Linked DNA regions of Homo sapiens: region 2 is linked to region 1. The links come from fine-mapping of genetic effects on plasma protein levels. Region 1 holds a variant in brackets. A gene starts in the other region. All regions are shown on their reverse strands.

What was found. PIP is the posterior inclusion probability: the model's chance that the variant is causal. Protein levels are from antibody-based Olink assays in UK Biobank. Linkage for the fine-mapping came from a reference panel and not from the study's own genotypes, which makes the PIPs less certain.
Region 2: FGL1 starts here. The variant in region 1 is fine-mapped to the plasma level of the FGL1 protein (UK Biobank, PIP above 0.99).

Annotation. Positions count from the first base shown.
Region 1 is chr19:54,654,586-54,665,499 of GRCh38, reverse strand. It overlaps LILRB4 (leukocyte immunoglobulin like receptor B4), which reads right to left and starts at 2,515. Exons shown (of 12, transcript NM_001278426.4): 1 at 2,433-2,515; 2 at 1,933-1,968; 3 at 1,462-1,746; 4 at 1,015-1,314; 5 at 651-701; 6 at 320-370. The coding sequence starts at 2,466. The variant C/T (reference allele first, on the strand shown) is at 689.
Region 2 is chr8:17,892,010-17,902,641 of GRCh38, reverse strand. FGL1 (fibrinogen like 1) reads left to right here and starts at 7,118. Exons shown (of 8, transcript NM_004467.4): 1 at 7,118-7,195.

The DNA of each region.
Region 1 (10,914 bases):
CTTGAACCACCGCCCTGCTCCCCTCCCCTGCCCCAGGTCACCGTCTCTGCTGCAGGTGGGACCGGACAGGCCCCTGCGGAATCGGGTCTGGGAGGTTCCCTGGGAGGCCTCCTCTCCCAGGAGGGCACAGCTGGGAGTCAGAGCTGAAAGGAACTTTCCCACCCGCAGGCCTCTCTCCTTTACACTTGGAGAAACTGAGGCCCATGCAGGGGAGGGGCCTGTCCACATCACCACCTCCAGAGGAGCCTTAACCTAGGACAGAACCCACCCTTGGCTCCCCTAGACCCTGCCCACCTCCCACTCAGAGCCCCTCACTCACCACTGTGGGGGACTGACCCTGTAGGCATGAGGGGCTGGTCCTCAGGGCCTGCTGGGTTAGAACAGGGATGTGAGGGCTGGGGCTGCCCTGCTCCCCACATCAGCTCGGCTTCTCCCCGCAACATCTCCTTCAGCCTTGACCCCCTCACCCCTCACCAGCCCAGCCTCAGGGCCTTGGGAGCCTGTGGTGCCTCCCAAGTCGCTGCCCGACTCCCACACCCGTGGAAGCAAGCCCAGCTGAGAATTGGAACGAGGACTTAGATCCACTGAGCATGTCTTGAGACAGGCCTCGGGCTTTGGAAACTCTCTGGACAGAGGCCTCTGAGACTCACCAGCTGTTGAGACGGACCTTGTGGGTGAGGGCCTGGGA[C/T]CCTCCAAGGATCCTGGGTAGAAGGACAAGAGGAGGGTGAGAGTCTGGGGTTGCCCTTGGGTCTCCACATCAAATTGAACCTCTCCCTATATCTGCCCTGCAGCTTCCCAAGGACCATTTCTCTGTCCACCTGGCACCTTCTGGACCCTAGGTGAGGGAGAAGAGCATGGGCATGCCTGGGAGGGCCCCTGTTGTCCTCCTCCCCTCTGAGGGCTGAGTCCCCCACTGGCTGAGCCCCTCTCCCTCCATCCCTGCCCAGAGCTCTCCTGGCAGCAGGGCATGAACGGAGCCACTGAGCTCAGAGAGGACAGGGTCAGGAGCCTCACCTGAGACTATGAGCTCCAGGGGGTCACTGGGGTGTGACAGCAGGTAGTGGGAGAAGCCGTGTGAGCTGAAGCACCTGTAGGTCCCCCCGTGCACTGAGGTCACAGGACTCATGGGGAATTCAGCCTGGTGCTGCTGAGCTCCGTGCTCTGATCTCAGATGCAGTAGGGGATGGGCTGCCCGCTCCTTGATCAGAAGAAAAGTGTCCATTGGGCTCCGTGACTGACACAGCAGGGTCACGCTCTTTCCTGAGGTCACAAGAGGACTCGGCAGGGCTGAAAGGGTGGGTTTACTGTAGGCTCCTAGGAGAGAAGGAGGCACCGTGTTAAATGGGGCTCCCACCTCCCACATCATCCCCAGGGCTGGGCTGTGAGAGGGAGATGCCCCTGAGAGCTGACCCCCTTCCTGAGGGCAGAGCCTGGGGCTGGGACCCCTGAGTGTCCTCTCACCTGTCATCACCAGCTCCAGGGGGTCACTGGGCTGTGACCAGCCTACAGGGCTGCGATAGTAACAGCGGTATCTCCCTGCATAGTCCTCTGTCATGGATGGGATGGAGAATCTGGCCTTGTTCTTGGGCTCCAGTGGGTTCTGTCTGTCCCAGGGTGCTGGGCTTTCCTCTTTATCCAGACGGTACTCCCGAGCCTCCAGGGTCCCCTGACACCAGATGGTCACAGAGTTCCCCCAGCTGATCACAGAGCCTGGCTCAGCCCAGAGGGTGGGTTTGGGGAGGGGCCCTGGAAGAAAATCAGAGGCTGGATCCCAAGACCTTCCTCAGCCCTCAGATCCCAGCTCTCAGCCCCAGGACCCCCCCGTCATCCTCATCAGTCACCCAGAACTGCTGTCTCCTCCCCCAGCTGCCCATGGGTGGCCCCTTGTCCCAGTGAGGAGGAGGGACCTGGGACAGCTGGGGACAGACTCACCTGCCTGCATGTGGGTCCTGGGGCCCAGACTCAGCCCTGGAAGAGAGTTCCCTGTGAGGGATTTGCCCCGGAAGCCTGAGCAGGTCCTCTCTTTACCCTGAGATTTTTTTTTTTTTTTTTTTTTGAGACGGAGTCTCGCTGTCACCCAGGCTGGAGTGCGGTGGTGCGATCTTGGCTCACTGCAAGCTCCGCCTCCCGGGTTCACGCCATTCTCCTGCCTCAGCCTCCCGAGTGGCTGGGACCACAGGCGCCTGCAACCACCCCCGGCTAATTTTTTGTATTTTTAGTAGAGACAGGGTTTCACCGTGTTAGCCAGGATGGTCTCGATCTCCTGACCTCGTGATCCGCCCGCCTCGGCCTCCCAAAGTGCTGGGATTACAGGCGTGAGCCACCGCGCCCGGCTACCCTGAGATTTTTGAGTCTCCTAAAGAACCAGGGCCTGGCTGTGAGGCAAATTTCCTCCAAGACTCGGGTCTCCCCTCCCCCTCTTTAAATCTCACCGAGGCAGAGCAGAGCCGTGAAGGTGGGGATCATGGCGTCTCCTCCCAGGGGCCCCAGCTGTGCAGATGGATGAGTCCTCAGTGCCGGCAGGACAAAGAGACACACAGGGTGTGGCCGCTTGGAGGCTGGGTCCTTCTCGTCATGGGGTTGTTCCATCAGCAGCCCACAGGAAGGGAAACTGCCCTCATTTGAACCCCAGCCTGGCTTTCATTTCCCCAGAGCTAGGGCTGAGGCAGGCACCAGGTTCTCTGCAGACATTTCAGACAGAAATGGGGTCTCTCTGATCCCAGCCTGCTGTCTGCCTGGTCTTAATTCCTCTCTTGACCAAACATCAACCCGTATGTATCGTGTGTTTGCAAAGCGCCTGACACTGGGGGTACATCATTGAACAAGTGAAAAAAAAAAAAAACCAAAAACCTGCATTTTCAGGGTACAGATGAACCATAAAGCTTCCTTTTGCTGCCATAACAAATCACCACAAGCTTAGTGGCTTCACATAATGTAGGTTTATTGACTTACCGTCCCGGAGGTCACAAGTCCAAAATGGGTCTCCCTGGGCTAAAATGAAGCTGCTATCAGAGCCGTGTCCTCCTGGAGGCTCCAAGGAGAATCTGTTCCCTCGCCTGTTCAAGCCTCTGCAGGCTCCCGCATTCCTGCCTCTCCATTCCCTCCAACCTCAAAGCCACCAGTCCCGTTATCTGCCCCCTGCTTCCATGCACTCACCTCCTTCTCTCACTCTGACCCTCCTGTCTTCCTCTTTCACTTACTCAGCCCCTTGTGATTACATCAGGCCCACCTGGGTAATCTCCCCAACCCAAGATCCTTGACTTAATCACATCTGCAAAGTCCCTTTTGCCACATAAGCTTCCCCAACTCACAGGGTCTGGGCCTCAGGAGGTGGACATCTCTGGGAGGTCACTATTCTGCCTCCCACAGGCCTTCAGGGACTCCTTTAACCAAATCTCACATAGAGCACTTCTCTGCGATGACGGAGAGTGGCTGGGCACGCCAGTCGAATGCTTGGTGGGCCAGTACGCAGCCAGGTCATGGTCGGCTACTCATGTCCCATGGGACCTGCCCACTTGAGGCCAAACATTCCATCTCCACCAGAGCCCGGTAGACATCTAAAAACTGTGTCGCAAAACAAAACTCATTCTCTGCAGCGCTAGCACGATGTAGCTCCAAAATATATATATATATTTTTTCTTTTCTGAGATGCAGTCTCACTCTGTCGCCCAGGCTAGAGTGCTGTGGTGTGATCTCAGCTCACTGCAACCTCCGCCTCCTGGGTTCAGGAGACTCTCCTGCTTTAGCCTCCTGTGTAGCTGGGATTACAGGCACCCGCCACCACTCACAGCTAATTTTTGTATTTTTAATAGAGATGGGGTTTCACCATGTTGGCCAGGCCGGTCTCGAACTCCTGACCTCTGGTGATCCGCCCATCTCAGCCTCTCAAAGTTGCTGGGGTTACAGGCATGAGCCACCACGCCCAGCCAAGCATAGATTTTAAATGTTTTCACAGATGTTAGTATGCGGAGTGATGGACATGTTAACTGTCTTGATTCCATCATTCCACAGTGTATACATTTATAACACATTGTACCCCATAAATATATATAGTTGGTGAATTAAATATTTAGTAAAATTATTTTGAAAAGGAAAAAAGCCATAAATACATAACAAGCAAGCAAAAAGGCCAGATAGCTTCAACCCTTAGATCACTGCCTGTGTAAAACACTTCAGGTGGCCAGCTCTCAATAATCATCCATTTGAGTGGGCACGTCCTGCAATGATCTGGAATTGTAGTCTGTCCTAGATGGTGACTAACCATTTTCTGTCTCTGTTCTTCTTAAAAGGATGAGAGGACCTTCTAACTTTAGAACTGAAACATAGGGTGGGAGGGGAAAGAGGAAGCAGAAAAAACAAACCCCAAATTAATTGTATCTAACGGTCAGGAAGGCAAAGAAGGAGAGGCTTGCAGGAGGCTGAAAGTCAAAGTGCCGGGAAACGCATGAACACCACTGCCCTCAGGTTTCCAAGCACCTGCTTTTAGTACCTCATTCCGTATCCTTTTGGGTCACTCTCAGAATCACGGGACAGTATCTCATTTCGAGGATTTCCATGTGTCTCTCCACATTTGTGTGTAAGGACCTTATTGGAAGCTATTTCAGCCAAAGCTTGATGCGTCTGACAGTGGCTGGGGAAAAAGAAACTCCCAGAAATGGGGGCTAGAAAGCCATACACATATTGGCGAGTATCTCCTGTTTTGGCGGGAAGTTCTGGATGATGGTCTGCACATTATCAGAGATCCTGGTGTGGACCTGTCCATATTACCTGCTGTAGTGGTGTCCGCAATGCATGCTGATTTCAGGAATTCCTCTCCTTCTCTCTTTCATAAGGGAACCCTATTCCCTTAAACTTGGTTCCCAAATCAGTTACCTGCGCTCATATCCTTGTCTTAAGTCCTGCTTTCAGAGTAACCTGTGCTAGGCAAGGACTGGGAAATGCCAGGAGGTTTTTCGATGTCATCACCCCTTTTCTAACCGCTCAACATGCCTTGCCTTTACCAGTCCTGGACTTCTTGTATTTTGCTTCTTTTTTTTTTTTTTTTTTGTGACAGGGTGACACTCTGTCATCCAGGCTGGAGTGCAGTGGTGCAATCTTGGCTTACTGCAACCTCGGCCTCCTGGGTTCAAACAATTCTCCTAACTCAGCCTCCCGAGTAGCTGAGAGCTGAGATTACAGGCAGCTGCCACCACACCCGGCTAACTTTTGTATTTTTAGTAGAGATGGGGTTTCACCATGTTGGCCAGGCTGGTTTCGAACTCCTGACCTCAGGTGATCTGCCCGCCTTGGCCTCCCAAAGTGCTGGGATTACAGGCGTGAGCCACCGCGCCCGGCCTCATTTTGCTTTTGTATTCGTGCACTCACCACTCAGTAAATCTTATCCATCCTCACTTAAGAAACATTTAAACATGTCAACCTGTGGCCATCCCAGGACACAAGAGATAAAGGCGAGCAAAGCAGATATACTGGATTCACAGTAACCCAGACTTCATTTCAAATTACCTCCCCTCCTAGAAAATCTAGCATCCTAGCAAAAATTAAGTTGATAAAATCACTACGCAAAAAGTTTAGAGATAGGACCAGTCCCGGGAAGGAAAGATTTAACGCAATAGGACAGGATAAAAGAAATACCCACTGGGTCCTGCACTCACCACCTGGGTGCAATAGTTCCATGTAGCAAACCTGAGCATGTATCCTCGTATCTAAAATAAAAGTTGAAGTTCAAAAAATAAAGAAGAAAAACAGAAAGCAATTGAGATGGAGGGTGGTGAAGAAGCTGAAGGAGAGGTCAGATGGTGATGATGAATTGGTATTATCTGAATGAAGGGATGCCTGGAGGTGGAGAGAGAAGCATTGCAGGAGGTCCTGGTCATAGGTATTCAAACGGGTGGATCCTAAAGCCTTACAAGAAGTAAAAAGACCACAAGAGTCGTTCATTCATTTCCAAGTATATTTCACTCTAGAGTCAAGCTTTTGTGAGATACTGAAAACAGGACCTAGTTGGAATGAATCATAAATTTCCATCTTAACTTGGGGTCACGGGTGTTCTGTGATTCATAAGAACCCATGTTTCATTGTTTCGTTTTCTTTTTTTTTATTATTATACTTCAAGTTCTGGGATACATGTGCAGAACGTGCAGGTTTGTTACATAGGTATACACGTGCCATGGTATTTTGCTGCACCCATCAACCTGTTGTCTATATTAGGTATTTCTTCTAATGCTATCCCTCCCCCAGCCCCCCAGCCCGTGACAGGTGCCGGTGTGTGATTTTCCCCTCTTCGTGTCCATGTGTTCTCATTGCTCAACTCCCACCTATGAGTGAGGACACGTGATGTTTGGTTTTCTGTTCTCGTGTTAGTTTGCAGAGAATGATGGTTTTCAGCTTCATCTGTGTCCCTGCAAAGGACATGAACTCATCCTTTTTTGTGGCTGCATAGTATTCCATGGTGTATATGTGCCACATTTTCTTTATCCAGTCTATCATTGATGGGCATTTGGGTTGGCGTATTTGATTTTATCCAGGGTTCTACAGATGCCAAGGAAGGGGTGCAGCTCTACTTAAGTTTACCTCTTGGTCTCTCCTTGGGACCTCCTCTGACTGTGCCATGCCTGAAACACCAACCCCTCTGTCACCACCAGGATCAATTGCAACTGCTCCATGCACATGAGACTACTGCATAGTCTGGGAGCAGTTGGCCTGGGGACAGTGGGATTGGAAGACCATGGAGGGTAGGAGAGCTCGCAGTCCACACAGCAGCCAGAAGGGAGGATATTTCAACATTCTCAAATCAATAGATATGATATCTCATGTCAACAGAAGGAAGAACAAAAAACATATAATCATGGGCAGGCGCGGTGGTTCATGCCTGCAATCCCAGCACTTTGGGAGATTGAGATGGGTGGATCACTTGAGGTCAGGAGATCGAGATCAGCCTGGCCAACATGATGAAACCCCATCTCTCTCAAAAATGCAAAATATTAACTGGGTGTGGTGGTGTGCACCGGTAGTCCAGCTACTCGGGAGGCTGAGACAGGAGAATCTCTTGAACCCAGGAGGTGGAAGTTGCAGTGAGCCAAGATCGCGCCACTGCACTCCTGCCTGGGTGAAGGAGAGACCCTCTGTCTAAAAAAAAAAAAAAAAATTATATGATCATCACAATAGATGTTAAAAAAACATTTGACAAAATTCAACATCCCTTCATCATTAAAACTATCAACAAATTAGGCCTAGAAGAAACACACCTCAACAAAAAATCCCCAGATAATTCCATTAACAAGTATGCAAAGCATCTGAATAGTTGCTTCTCAAAAGAAAATGTACAGATGGCCAACAGCTATATAAAACACTAATCATCGGCCAAGCGCGGTGGCTCACACCTGTAATCCCAGCACTTTGGGAGGCCAAAGCAGGTGGATCACTTGAACCCAGGAGTTTGAGACCAGCCTGGGCAACATGGTGAAACCTCATCTCTACCAAAAATACAAAAAAAGAAAAAAAAACAGCTGGGCGTGGTGGCATACACCTGTAGTCCCATCTACTGAGGAGGCTGAGGCAGGAGGCTCACTTGAACCCAGTAGGCAGAGGTTGCAGTGAGCCAAGATCACACTACTGCACTCCAATCTGGGTGACAGAGCGAGACTTCATCTCAAAACACAAACAAACAAACAAAAACCCACAATCATCACTGGCATCAAATCGAAACTACAATGAGTATCATCTTATTTCAGTTAAAATGTCTATTATCAAAGAAACATATAAAAACATGCTGGGCTGGGCACAGTGGTTCACGCCTGTAATCTCAGCACTTTGGGAGGCCGAGGCAGGCGGATCACGAGGTCAGGAGTTTGAGACCAGCCTGGCCAACATGTTGAAACCCCGTCTCTACTAAAAAGACAAAAATTAGCCGGGCGTGGTGGCGCCCGCCTGTAATCAGGAGGCTCCTGCTACTCGGGAGGCTGAGGGAAGAGAATCGCTTGCACCCAGGAGCTGGAGGTTGCAGTGAGCTGAGATGGCACCACTGCACTCCAGCCTGGGCGACAGAGTGAGACTCCATCTAAACAAACAAACAAATAAATAAATAGATCAATAAAATAAAATAAAAACATGCTGGTGAGGATGTGCTGACAAAATAACTCTTAGACACTGTTGGTGGGAATATAAATTAGTACAGCCATTATGGAAAACATGGAGATTCCGGCCGGGCGCGGTGGCTCACACCTGTAATCCCAGCACTTTGGGAGGCCGAGGCGGGCGGATCACGAGGTCAGGAGATCAAGACCATCCTGGCCAACAGGGTGAAACCCTGTCTCTACTAAAAATACAAAAAATTAGCCAGGCGAGGTGGCAGGCACCTGTAGTCCCAGCTACTCGGGAGGCTGAGGCAGGAGAATGGTGTGAACCCCGAGGGGCAGAGCCTACAGTGAGCCGAGATCACGCCACTGCACTCCAGCCTGGGCGACAGTGAGACTCTGTCTCAAAAAAAGAAAAAAAAAAAAAACACGGAGATTCCTCAAGATACTGAAACTGCAATTATCGTAAAATCCAGTGAGTTCACTACTGAATATTCATGCAAAGGAAAAAAATCTCAGGACATCACAAGAGTCCCTGCACCCGTGTGTTTATTGCAGCACTCTTCACAAGTCAGCATACGGAATCAACCTAAGTGTCCATCAGTGGATAAAAGGGTAAAGAAAATGTGGTATGTATACACAATGGAAGAGGGGTCATCCATAAAAAAGAATGAAATCCTGACATTTACAGCAACATAGTTGGAACTGGAGGTCATTATGGTCAGTGAAATAAGCCAGGAACAGAAAGACAAATCTCGAATGTTCTCACTCATACGTGGGAGCTAAAGAAGTGGATTCCTAAACAGAGAGAGTAGACTGGTTGGCCAGGTGTGGTGGCTTGTGCCTGTAATCCCAGTGATTTGGGAGGCCAAGGCAGGTGGTTCACTTGAGGTCAGGAGTTCCAGACCAGCCTGGCCAATGTGGCAAAACCCCTTCTCTACGAAACATACAAAAATTAGTTGGGCGTGGTGGTGTGCACTGTGGTCCTAGCTACTCGGGAGTCTGAGGCAGGAGGATCGCTTGAGCCCTGGAGGGTTGAGGCTGCAGTGAGCCATGATTGTGTCACTGCATTCCAGCTTGGGCAACAGAGCAATACCTTGTCTCAAAAGAAAAAAAAAAGGCCGGGCGTGGTGGCTCATGCCTGTAATCCCAGCACTTTGGGAGGCTGAGGCGGGTGGATCACTTGAGGTCAAGAGTTCGAGACCATCCTGGCCAACATGGTGAAACCCTGTCTTTAGCCTGGCGTGGTGGCATGCATCTGTAATCCCAGCTACTCAGGAGGCTGAGGCAGGCGAATCTCTTGAACCCAGGAGGCAAAGGTTGCAGTGAGCCAAGATCACGCCACTGCATTCCATCCTGGGTGACACAGCAAGACTCTGTCTCAAAAAAAAAAAATGTGTAGACTGGTGGTTACTAGAGCTGGAAAGGGTGGGAGATAAGGAGATGTTAGTTACGGAGTATAGAAATACAGCTGGATAGGAGAAATAACTGAGTATTTGACAGTACAGTAGGGGAAGTATAGTTAACAATAATATATTGTGTATTTCAAAACAACTAGAATAAAAGAATTGTAATGCTCCCCAACAAAAAGAAAAGATAAATATTTGAGGTGATGGATATTCTAATTACCCTGATTTTATTATTACCCATTGCATACAAGTATCAAAATATCATAAGTACCCCAAACCTATATACAACTATTATATATGGATAAAAATAAATAAATGGAACTCTGGCACCAACTTTAAGGCATAACGTGTACAAATCCAGGGGATCTATTTAGGGCACTGGTTGTCCTGAGTGTGCTAATTTGATTGTGGCAATCATTACACAATGTATACGTATATCAAATCATCATGTTGTACACCTCAATATATACAATCTTGGTTGATTAAATCATTTTAAGGATAAAAAAGGATTTTTTAAAAAGATAAAAAGGAAAACACTGAACTTCTCTGTGGCTCTCCTTTTTCCCTGCTCAGCTTTGAATAACTGTGAAGGCAAAGACTGGATGCAGGTGACCTGTGCACCCTAGGACCTGGCGTGGGATTGCCAGACTTTAGGTCTTTAGGATTATTTGTTGATGTACAAAGGAAAGCATGGCCCAGAGAACTGGGCTCTGCTCTCAGTTGCATAAATATGGCCCATTCTTAAGGCCAGCAATTAAGCTCCAGGAAGATCCCTAGAGTCAGCTGAACAGAAAATTACAACAAAGTCTCTGGGGCAATTGGGGATTTCCAGGAGACATAGGAGCAGCTGGGGACTGCGTCAGTGATAATGAAATCAGCTGGGTGGATGTAGCCGGGTCTCTAGAAACAGCCAGCGGATGTAGCCGGGTCTCTGGAAACAGTCAGGTGGATGTAGCCGGGTCTCTGGAAACAGCCAGGTGGATGTAGCCGGGTCTCTGGAAACAGCCAGGTGGATGTAGCCGGGTCTCTAGAAACAGCTAGGTGCATGTAGCTGGGTCTCTGCAAACAGGCAGGCAGCTATGGGGGATTGGGGGTGGTCACTGGAAACAGCTAGATGACTGTAGCTGACTCTTTAGTAACAGCCGAATGTAACTAGGTCTCTGGAAAGTCACCTTGAGGACTGAGCTGGGAGATGGGAGGTGCCTCGTGGGAGCTTATGTCATGGGTAGAGGAGCACAGTTTATTGCCTGGCAGGGCGTACGTGTGGGAATAGATTCCCCGGCCTCTCTCTCCTCTCACCCTCTGCTCTCCTGACAGTGCCTCCCATGGCTGAACTCAACCAGACACTAGACACAAGAAGATGTTGGTGATGCAATCCATAGAGTCAGCCTCCAGGGCAGAGACAAGGTGGGAAAGGACAGAGGGTGTATTAG
Region 2 (10,632 bases), not on the chromosome of region 1:
TCTGCTACAAGGTCTTCCATTACAGATTAAAGAAGTTTCTTTCACCTTTCTTAACTGAAATGTAAAATTCTTGTGCTAAAGCATGAGTAAATTTGGGAATCTTAGTAAAATGAGTTTAGGGGCATTGTATTGTCTGCATCAACGTTCACTGCATCCACATTTCACAAATAGTTCTACATTATTAAGAATAACATCATGACTCTTTCATTCGTTCTGTAAAGAATGATGCAGCAGGCTGGACATGGTAGCTTCCTAATCTAACATTGGAATTATCTTCATGAAATGATGTATTATCTTTGGTTGTACATTGCTGCCTCACTCTTTTTTTTGAGACAGGGTCTTACTCTGTTGCCCAGGCTGGAGTGCAATGGTGTGATCTTGCCTCCACCTCCCAGGTTCAAGTGATCCTCCTGCCTCAGCCTCCCTAGTAGTTGGGATTACAGGCACCTGCCACCACAGCTGGCTGTTTTTGTATTTTTAGTAGAGATGGGATTTCACCATGTTGGCCAGACTGGTCTCAAACTCCTGACCTCAGATGATCCACACGTCTTGGCCTCCTAAAGTGCTGGGATTACAGGTGTAAGCCACCAATCCCAGGAGCCAGCCTGCTGCCTCCTTCTTTACAGAACGAATTAAACAATCATGACATTGTTTCAAGACAGAAGGAAACGAAAATTTATCGCATATTTTCTATCAGGCATTGTCATAAGCACTTCATGTAAGTTATCAAGTTTAATCGTTACCAATTTTGAATATTTACATTATATGCTAATACAAATAGGTGATATTACTATTCCATGCATAATAAATATTTCTGAGCTTCTATTGTGTGGTGTGCATATGCTGGGTGCTGTGGATATTGAAATAAGAAAAAACAAGCCCCTGATCTCCCTGGAATGAAAAGAGAAGCTCCAGTACACAATATAGTGATGTGTGATATAAGAGAAGTAAATACATAGGAGAACATCTAGCCTTGGTGGATGGGCTAGGAGAAGGGCTGGTGGCTAATTAAGACTTATTTCATTCAGAGAGGGTACATAGAAATTAGAATAGGCAAATAAAAAGGTAACAACTATATACATCACAGCAATAGAAAAGGGTACATGTATTATGGTTAATTCATTGGTGAAAGAGTCATTGGAGATGCAGTCTTAGGCTTGCCGAGCATCTTTATTGAGCCAGGCAATCTTCCATTAAACTGGACAGATCCCCACCTTTCATTTCTCTTGAAATTTCCTAATTTTGTAGTAGGAGAATGGCACATACTATGGAGCTTTTCTTGCTCACAACAGATCACCCAGCAGCCACATTTGACAAAAATTTTGGGGCCAGGGAGTAAAGGTGTGGCCTCAGTGTGTGGGTGCCATATATCTAGGTGTACACTGAAATACACAGATGGCTGGGTGTGGTAGCTCACGCCTGTAATCCCAGCACTTTGGTAGGCCGAGGTGGGCGGATCATGAGGTCAAGAGATCGAGACCTCCTGGCCAACATGGTAAAACCCCATCTCTACTAAAAATACAAAAATTAGCTGGGCATGGTGGTGCATGCCCAAGTCCCAGCTACGTGGGATGCTGACGCAGGAGAATTGCTGGAACCCGGGAGGTGGAGGTTGCAGTGAGCTGAGATTGCACCACTATCCTCCAGCCAGGCAACAGAGTGAGACTCTGTCTCAAAAAAAAAAAAAAGAAAGAAAGAAAGAAGAAAGAAAGAAAGAAAAAGAAAGAAAGAAAGGAAAGGAAAGGAAGGAAGGAAGGAAGGAAGAAAGAAAGAAAAAGAAAAAAACAGAAAGAAATACCGATGACTGGGCTAATTGGATTCTCCCTCTTAGGGATGTGAGATTTGTATGGACAGACACAGAGGCCAGAATTCCACTGAAATTAAAACATTTTAAGGGCTGCATACTACAGAATAAATCCAAGAACACATCTTTGAGAGATTTTTGGAGCTTTCCTTATTCTGCCTTCCCTTGGCTTGTATCAGTCTGTCACTGATTGTACTACTTACCTCAGTCCGTAACCCTCCAACAAATCCAATTATTTTTGTTCTAGATGGCTGAAGTTCATTTCTTCAGATTATAAACAACAACAACAAATAAAACTAGTATAAGTGTATGACTCTCAAATAGGGCCTCAATATTTCAGAATCTTTGATCGCTGGAGTCAAGCACACAATGTCTATTCTAAAAGTTCTAGAATTTTTCCACAATGTGTCTCTGAGGGGGAAGCAGGAAAAAAACATTTCAGTCTCAGAGGAATCATTTTGTAGTATACTCTTGGTCATGCCTATAGGAGTCAGGGACCTAGCCTTTGTTTTTGAGGGAGTTCTAGTTATTGGCAAAGTTATCCAAGTGCAAATATAAATTTTTAAATGTAAATTTTAAAGGTTTCATATGCCCGGTTATTGTCCCAAATGCACATGCAGAAAAATAAGTTGTGCCTGATGAACTAAATGTGGGCTAACCAACAGATTAATCAGAAAGTATGTGTAATTGTAGACAATGAATTTTTTTGTCTCTCAACCTAATGTACAGTTATTTTGAAGTGAAAGGAAACTATATCTCAGGGAATTATATTTAGATTGTCTTCCTTTTTCTAAGAAATAAAAACTGAGTAAAAAAAAGACAAAATTTAAATTCAAATGGGCAAATATATTTTTGTCAAATGTATATTTTTACATTTTCTGCTAGAGTTCAGAAATTTTGTCAGAATAGCTTGCAACCCTGAGGATTCTACTTTCAGATATTGTCATAGTGGTAGGAATCACGCATTTTCCAATTAGTTGAATTCTTCATGAAAAGATAATATTTTAAAAGTCTAAAAACTGGAGAAAAGAGGTACATATAGAGACTGGATTTAGGCATCAGGATGAAAAGATACACTGCAAATTCATCCAAAAAAAAAAAAAAAAAAGCAGATACATCATCACCGAGGAGTAGAATGAAAGCAAGTATCTTCTGATACCTTCCATCTTCCGTGTTCCTAAAGGCGTATTTTAAAATGTGGTTTTACTTAACACGAGCTCTTGTGTTCTTTTTTCCCTACATATTTTTATACAATATAGCTAAATTTCTTCTTCATGTGTTACGGGTAAAAAATCTGTTTTCTATTAGAATTTACGTGTATTTGGTTAAAATTGTTTTTTTAATGACATGTGACCTTCTGGGGAGATTCTTCTTTAATAAGAAAGATGTTATTATTCAGAAGCATAAAATAAATGCCAGTCCACAGTCCTTGCAAACACACAGAAAGAAAAACAAACATATTCCTCAGCAAGAACACTTTTTATTTTTTGTGGCAGAAAAAAAAAAAGAAAACATCTTTGTACTCTTCCTGCTAGGGAACCAATCTAAAATTAGTTTGAGAATCAGAGGGGAAAAAAATCCAAACACATAGGTGAGAAAGCTCTGAAAAGATGAGTAGTGAATAAGCGTTTCATTTTATCTTAACTAGTATGCAGGGGAGGACATAGGTTGTGTGGAACCTGAAGCTACACATTTGGGAGTATCTGCCAAATGTCTATCAGTATTACTTTTTACATGCCTCATGTAGCAGGCCTAGAGGGAGAGCAATCCAGATGTGAGCAAAAGAACAGAGAGCTCTGGGAGGAAGAAATAATGGTGCAGTGACAAAATTCCTTCTGAGGCATTCGACTTTCCTGTCCAGGAGCCTCAGAGTTACAGGCAGAGTTCAATCATAGAAGCAGAGCTTCTAGGATATATAAGGGATTTGACTTAATGCAACTGTGGGAGCTGGTTAAGTACTCTTTGAAAGGCAGCTGTCTCCAGGGATGATGTTGGAGCTTGAAGTACGAACTGCAGTTAAGCGAGAGAGTAGATGAGCGTAATAGAAGCAGGAGCTGGAATCTATGAGGACGGACTGAAACCTGTGTCAGTTCTTGTTGCCTCTGACCTTGGTTGATGTGGGTGTCCTACAGAAGCCAGACCCATTTGTAATGTGCTAAACGAGGCTCCAAATTATATCCAAAGGGAAGTGAAACAGCTGGAGGCTTAGCCACTATCTTAAGGCCAACGAGATACGTTACAGCATGGGAGAGCTGCAAAGATGGCTGCCACTTCCTTTCTGCCTGCCAACTGCTCCTAATGGAAAACATAAGGCAAAAGGAATTCTGGGAACTGTAGTTCGGCCTACCCAAGTTGACACATTACAAAGCACCTCAATTTTTCTTTTCTTCCTCTTTTTCTTTATCCACCTTTACCCTTATTTTTCTAGTTCATATTGTCAGAATCTTTCCCAGAAAGTGTGTGTGAAGGTGGAACTATTTATTGATCATCTATTAATGTAAACTTTCTGCTAGTTACATCAATAATGGGAATACTTAGGATAACTCACTAGTAAAACTGTTTTAGTTTTATTAATTTTAAAATGCTTCTCCATTGAAATTTCTGAGACCTACGTTATGTGCAAATAAACTTTCTAGTTTTTCAGGACTCTGCCTGAGATGACATTGAAACCAGCATTTCAGGAAGGAATTTGATTACCTCCACCTGAGGAAGCTCTGCTAGTTGTGTGGAACGAAGACTGTTCTTAACAACCCCTTTCCTTGATATCTACAATACGCTCCGTTCTAAATATTTTAATAAAGGGCACATTTGAAGTTTAAAATGTTATCATTGTAATCAGAGCATGGAGTTTTATAAGTCCCATAAAAGGGTGCCTCCTGAACTGGGAGTCAAGTTTGGAAAATATAACCATCAGAAATTTATGCTGGTAGAATACAGTCAAGGATATAAGATCATTTGTCTGAGTCTAGTTCCTCATGCAGCCTTAAGTAGACATGTTCCTCGCTGCAAGCTTGAGTGGACTGGAGGCGGCAAGATCTGGAATTAAACCTTCCCACGGTGACTGGGTCAAGTATCAAATAATGGACAGGTGTTCAATCTGGCAGGCACAATACAGGGTCCAGAGGGTTTGGATGAAAATTGTGCTGTAACTGATGTATTAATTGAAGAGTTCTCTGAAAAAGGTCTTCCAAAAGGAAAAGGAAAAAAGAATTGACAGTGTCCGTTTAATGTGTTTGAGAGCCTAATCAGCCTGATCTTGGTGGGACTGTACTTGTTGTCCTATTATATCATGCTTTTCTTGTACTTTTTTCAGCCAGTGATCTCAGGTCTCATTCTCATTTCATAGCTTTGGTGCAGTTGTGCAAGGTCACAACTCTTCTTTCTTGCTTTTTTTCTTTTTCTTTTTTTTTGACAGGGTCTTGCTCTGTCACCCAGGCTGCAGTGCAGTGGCGCGATCTCGGCTCACTGCAATCTCTGCCTCCTGGGTTCAAGTAATTCTCCTCCTCAGCCTCCTGTGTAGCTGGTACCACAGACGCCCACCACCACACCTGGATAATTTTTGTAGTTTTAGTAGAAACTAAAAATACATGGGGTTTTGCCATTTTGGCCAGGCTGGTCTCGAACTCCTGACCTCAGGTGATCCACCTGCCTCAGCCTCCCAAAGCGTTGGGATTACAGGCGTGAGCCACCGCACCTGGCCATAATTTTGACCTTTCCTGATGATAGTTCTTCCACCATGTTATGGCAGTACATCCATGGAATAATGTTACTCCAAGAAAATTTGGCTTTTGGAATTCCTCCACAAAGTATTGGCCCTAGAGTAGTCCTTACTGCCTGATTAACTTTTGCAAGTTTCTCCTGAGGTAATGATGCTAGCCAAGTTTCCGAAAGACAGCATAGTCTACCTTTAGTAGAAAAGAGGACAGATTCTGAGCAGGATTGCCTTTGAGCCCAGCTATACCTCTTGTTAGCTGTGTGACCTCGTGCAAGTCACTTAAACCTCTGTGTCTCAGTTTCGTCATTTGTGAAATGGAGATCATTAACAGTACCTACTTATAGGGCTGTGTGGCTGAGTGAGTTGATAAAATTACCATGTTTAGCACATGATAAGTATACCACATGTTAGCTGCTGTTAATGTTATGTCCCTCCAGTGAGGAAATGAACACAAGGCTAAATTATTGCTTGAATGGGGACAAAGCTAAAGGCATACAAGAAGGAAAGATAAGTTTGTATTTCAAAATATGTCATTTTACCACAGAGATCATTATTGAATTAGCCGAATAATCCCATATTTTTGCTTTTGAAATTTAACATTAGCAGCTTGAATTCTCTACAATTATGAATGTATAATTTCCACTTCTTCTGTGTGTGTGCAAATCACTTCAGTCTAACTGGCTTTTTTTTTCCTTCTTTTTTCCAGTAAATCAACAGGATTACCTTTCCCTTAATAATCTTCAAAATGTCCACGTGAAGGACAGGAAGATGTTTAATGGGAAGACCAAACATCGTCAGTGCTCAAGTCCAGTAGATAACAAAGAACAGAAAGAAAACAAAACTTTGGTATTTTACTGGAATCTGAGTGAATAAATAGGGACCACAGGACAAATGGCAAACAACTGCTTGAGTTACATCAGAAGGAAAGAAGAAATGATGAACCCAGATTTCCAGTAAGAAACTGTTACACAATACGATTAATGGAGCTAACAAGTGCCTATTACACATTAGAAAATCTTCTAGAGGATTTTAAAACAAAAGGAACAACTTGTCCAGAGTATAATCGATGCTTCCAGTTAAATTTCACAATTTTGCACCTCAGGGAATACTTTTGTTTTTCTTAGAGAGCAAATAAACTGACCATTTCACCTTGGCAATTATTAACCTGCCTTGTTTTTTATAACTAGGAAAAATTTGGCTTATCTCCATATTTTAGTTGAGATGACATATTAATTCATATTTTTGTGGGTAAAATGTTATTACCCTTAATACAAAGCAAAGTTTCAGCTGGACTTCGTTTTTACTTAATCTTCAATGGAACATTATTGAAGTTACAGTACAAAAATTCTCTGAATGAACATAATAATAAGTTGTAAAATATATATATCTTTATAAAGATATATTATTGGATCTTTCACAAAAAGTCATACAAGTGGGGAAAAAAGAAAAATATCAGAGTATTGGGATTTGTCCTTGAATCTTCTCTTTTAGCTTTCTTTCAGTTAAACCTGTGTCCACATGTTTGTTTCTGGATTGAAGCCAGAATCAACATTGTCCCTATTTCTAATCAAATAATGGAGAAATAATTACAAATTCCCAATGCAGTTACAGGATCCTGGGAAGCAGAGTGTCTGGATGGAACCTGAGCTGGGTCTCTGACTCACTTCTGACTTTAGGCAAGTTATTTAATGTCTCTGCATTTTTGACATGCTTGTAATAATGCTAATTTATTTCACAGGTATGATAGTAACCAAAACTCAGGTAACAACCATTAGCTTTTGCAAGAAGTCAGGTTGACTAGCAAGGAGTCTGCTTCTGCTACTTGGAGAAGAGATTTAGAATTATGTATCTTTTGTTACAGATATACAGATATACAAATATACAGATATACAAATAAGGTATGTTAGAATTACAAATGAGGAAAATGGAAAATTTTAGAGAACTTAAGATATTCTCAGGAATTATTCTAAAGCTAATCAAAGTAATATAATGACTTTCTAAATATGTATAATTACATTTTGAAATGCTTTATTGTTTATATGCTACCAGACTAGGGGGTGCCTTTTTGATTATTGGATTATCTTAATGGTAATGAGATGAACATTTCAGGACATCAAGAGACAGAGGCCTGTCAAAAAAATTTCATTAGCCCTTTATTTTTTACTAAATCTAATGCTAAGCAATATTTATATACCTTATATAATGTATATATAATCTATAATATATACATAATTATGTATAATAATGTTACGTACATACATATACATATATATACAGTGTGCGCAGGTAAAATTATATGATATATAGGTGCATCACCCAGAGCATTTTCAAAACATACTTCCATTTATGCAAGAGCCAGAATCAAACATTGGAATAAGAAAATTTCTTTTTTAAGCTCTAGGCGTTTTTTGTTGTTGTCGTTTGTTTGTTGGTTTTTTGAGATGGAGTCTCACTTTGTATAATTTCCTTTACATTTTGAATGAATTGCATGGGAGTTTGACGTAAATGATAGGTTTACAGTTTCAGTATAAAAAATTAAAAATAAAATGGACTATATGACAATTTTCACTTCAGAAGTCAAAAAACTTCAGAAACATTTTTCTTTATTGCATTTCTTGAGGGATCAACTATATTTAGCTTTGTAAGGCTTTCAGTGAGTATGGATTCTTAAGAAAAATACAAAAGCACAGTTATATTCCATTTTCAGAAAGAGGAAAAAATTTGGAAGGAAATAGCTTAAAAGGAGTCTCTAAGCTTGTGTTTATGGGTACATTTTTAACTCACTGACTTAGGTTATAGTCCTAAGCATTATAGTCCTATAGCGTTTGTGAATGCTAACTTATTAAACATACTTCGTTCAATAACTTTTTCCTTCCTTTTTATTTCTTTTATATATCCTTTTACAATGCTTGCTTAAAACATACCAGTTTTGAAATGTTTGCATGCTACTAATGTACTTCTGTTTTGTAATTGTTTTTAAAAATTATATATTATTTTTAGAACTTTTCATTTACAAATTTAATGTCTTCATCTTTAAATTTAATGCAGCGTAATTAATTAAATTTTTTTTAAATATAGTGGGGAAGGAATTAGAATTTATAGCATTAAAATTATGTAAAATAATATAGTCCACCAAAGAACAGCCATTTGATAACAATTTTAATTTTATAATAATTAAAAGTTTTGATACTGCCTAAGGCAAAAATATTATAAAAGAAATACAACTAATTGTGCAATAAATGAACAGAATAATTTGATACAACTTTACTGTAAGCCAGATGTGCAGAAGAAATAATGGTTTACTATAATGAATGATGGAGACCAGAATTTCAAAGCAAGTTTCTTAATGCTTAGCATTTCTTCAATATTACAGAGAATGTTGGTTAGAATTGCAAAGGAGGAAAATGGAAAATTTTAGAGAACTTAAGATATTCTCAGGAATTATTCTAAAGCTAATCAAAGTAATATAATGACTTTCTAAATGTAAATAATTACATTTTGAAATGCTTTATTGTTTATATGCTACCAGACTAGGGGGTGCCTTTTTGATTATTGGATTATCTTAATGGTAGTGAGATAAACATTTCAGGACATCAAGAGACAGAGGCCTGTCAAAAAAATTTCATTAGCCCTTTATTTTTTACTAAATCTAATGCTAAGCAATATTTATATACCTTATATAATGTATATATAATATAATCTATAATATATACATATTATGTATAATAATGTTATGTTCATACATATACGTATATATACAGTGTGCGTAGGTAAAATTATATGATATATAGGTGCATCATTCAGAGCATTTTCAAAACATACTTCCATTTATGCAAGAGCCAGAATCAAACATTGGAATGAGAAAATTTCTTTTTTAAGCTCTAGGTGTTTTTTGTTGTTGTTGTTTGTTTGTTTGTTTTTTGAGATGGAGTCTCACTCTGTCACCCAGGCTGGAGTGCAGTGGTGTGATCTTGGCTCACTGCAACCTCTGTCTCCCAGGTTCAAGCAATTCTCATGCCTCAACCAACACAGTAGCTGGGATAAAAGGTGTGTGCCACCACACCTGGCTAATTTCTTTGTATTTTTAGTAGGGACGGGGTTTTGCCATGTTGGCCATGCTGGTCTCAAACTCCTGACCCAAGTGATCTGCCTGCCTCAGCCTCTCAACGTGCTGGGATTACAGGCATGAGCCACCACGCCTGGCTAAGCTCTAACTTTTTAAGCTAATTTATTCACTTCTGAAATAAAGTACTTGATCCCACAAATGCATAAGAAAACTTTAATCAAATAAAAAAATTTTTCAACAAATAACATTAAAGCAAAGTCTAGAAGATACAGACATTTCATGATTTTTAATTTTTGACTCCTGAATATTATCTGGGAGCGGATTAAAATAATGAAAATTTGTTTCCTGTCACATAAAAAAAGAGGACATTATTTTTACTACTAATCCTTAGCAGTTTCATTTATCAAGGAAAAATCCTAATCAGTAATCTATTAAATACATTGGTTATTTTCAGTCAGAAGAACAATTTGAGTTGGAGTCACAAATAAATGGTATTTATGTCATGTCGTTATGCTGATTTCCCAGACTAGTGTAAATATACTTAGTGAAAGTCTCTTTTATTTCTTTAGGCAAACAATTTTCCCTCTCTGAGCCTCTAGTGTTGATGATATTTGACTGAATGATGTCACTTCCTCTAATTATATTTTCTCTGCATGTTCTAGTCTCGGGGAACAAGGCTATTTCTAAAATCTCTTTATATTTTTTAAATATTTTGTTTTCCATCTTTATTTTCTTTTGCTTCCTTATAATAAAATGTTTTTGTTTCTTATTTTCTGTAACATGAAAAATACTTTATGACTGTATGTCTGTGACTATGCAATTGTTTATGTTTAAGAAATTGCCATTTGCATAAGGGCATTTATTTTTTTCCTTTATGCTACTTGAGTTTTGTGATAAATTTTAAAATTAGATAGTTAAAGACACAAGGGTACAAATTTAAAAAGCAACATAGCTATTATAATTTTGCTCAAAAAACATATTTATTGCCAACTGAAAACACGAGTCAAACTAAAAACTTATTATGAGATAGCTATGGTAATGACCTTG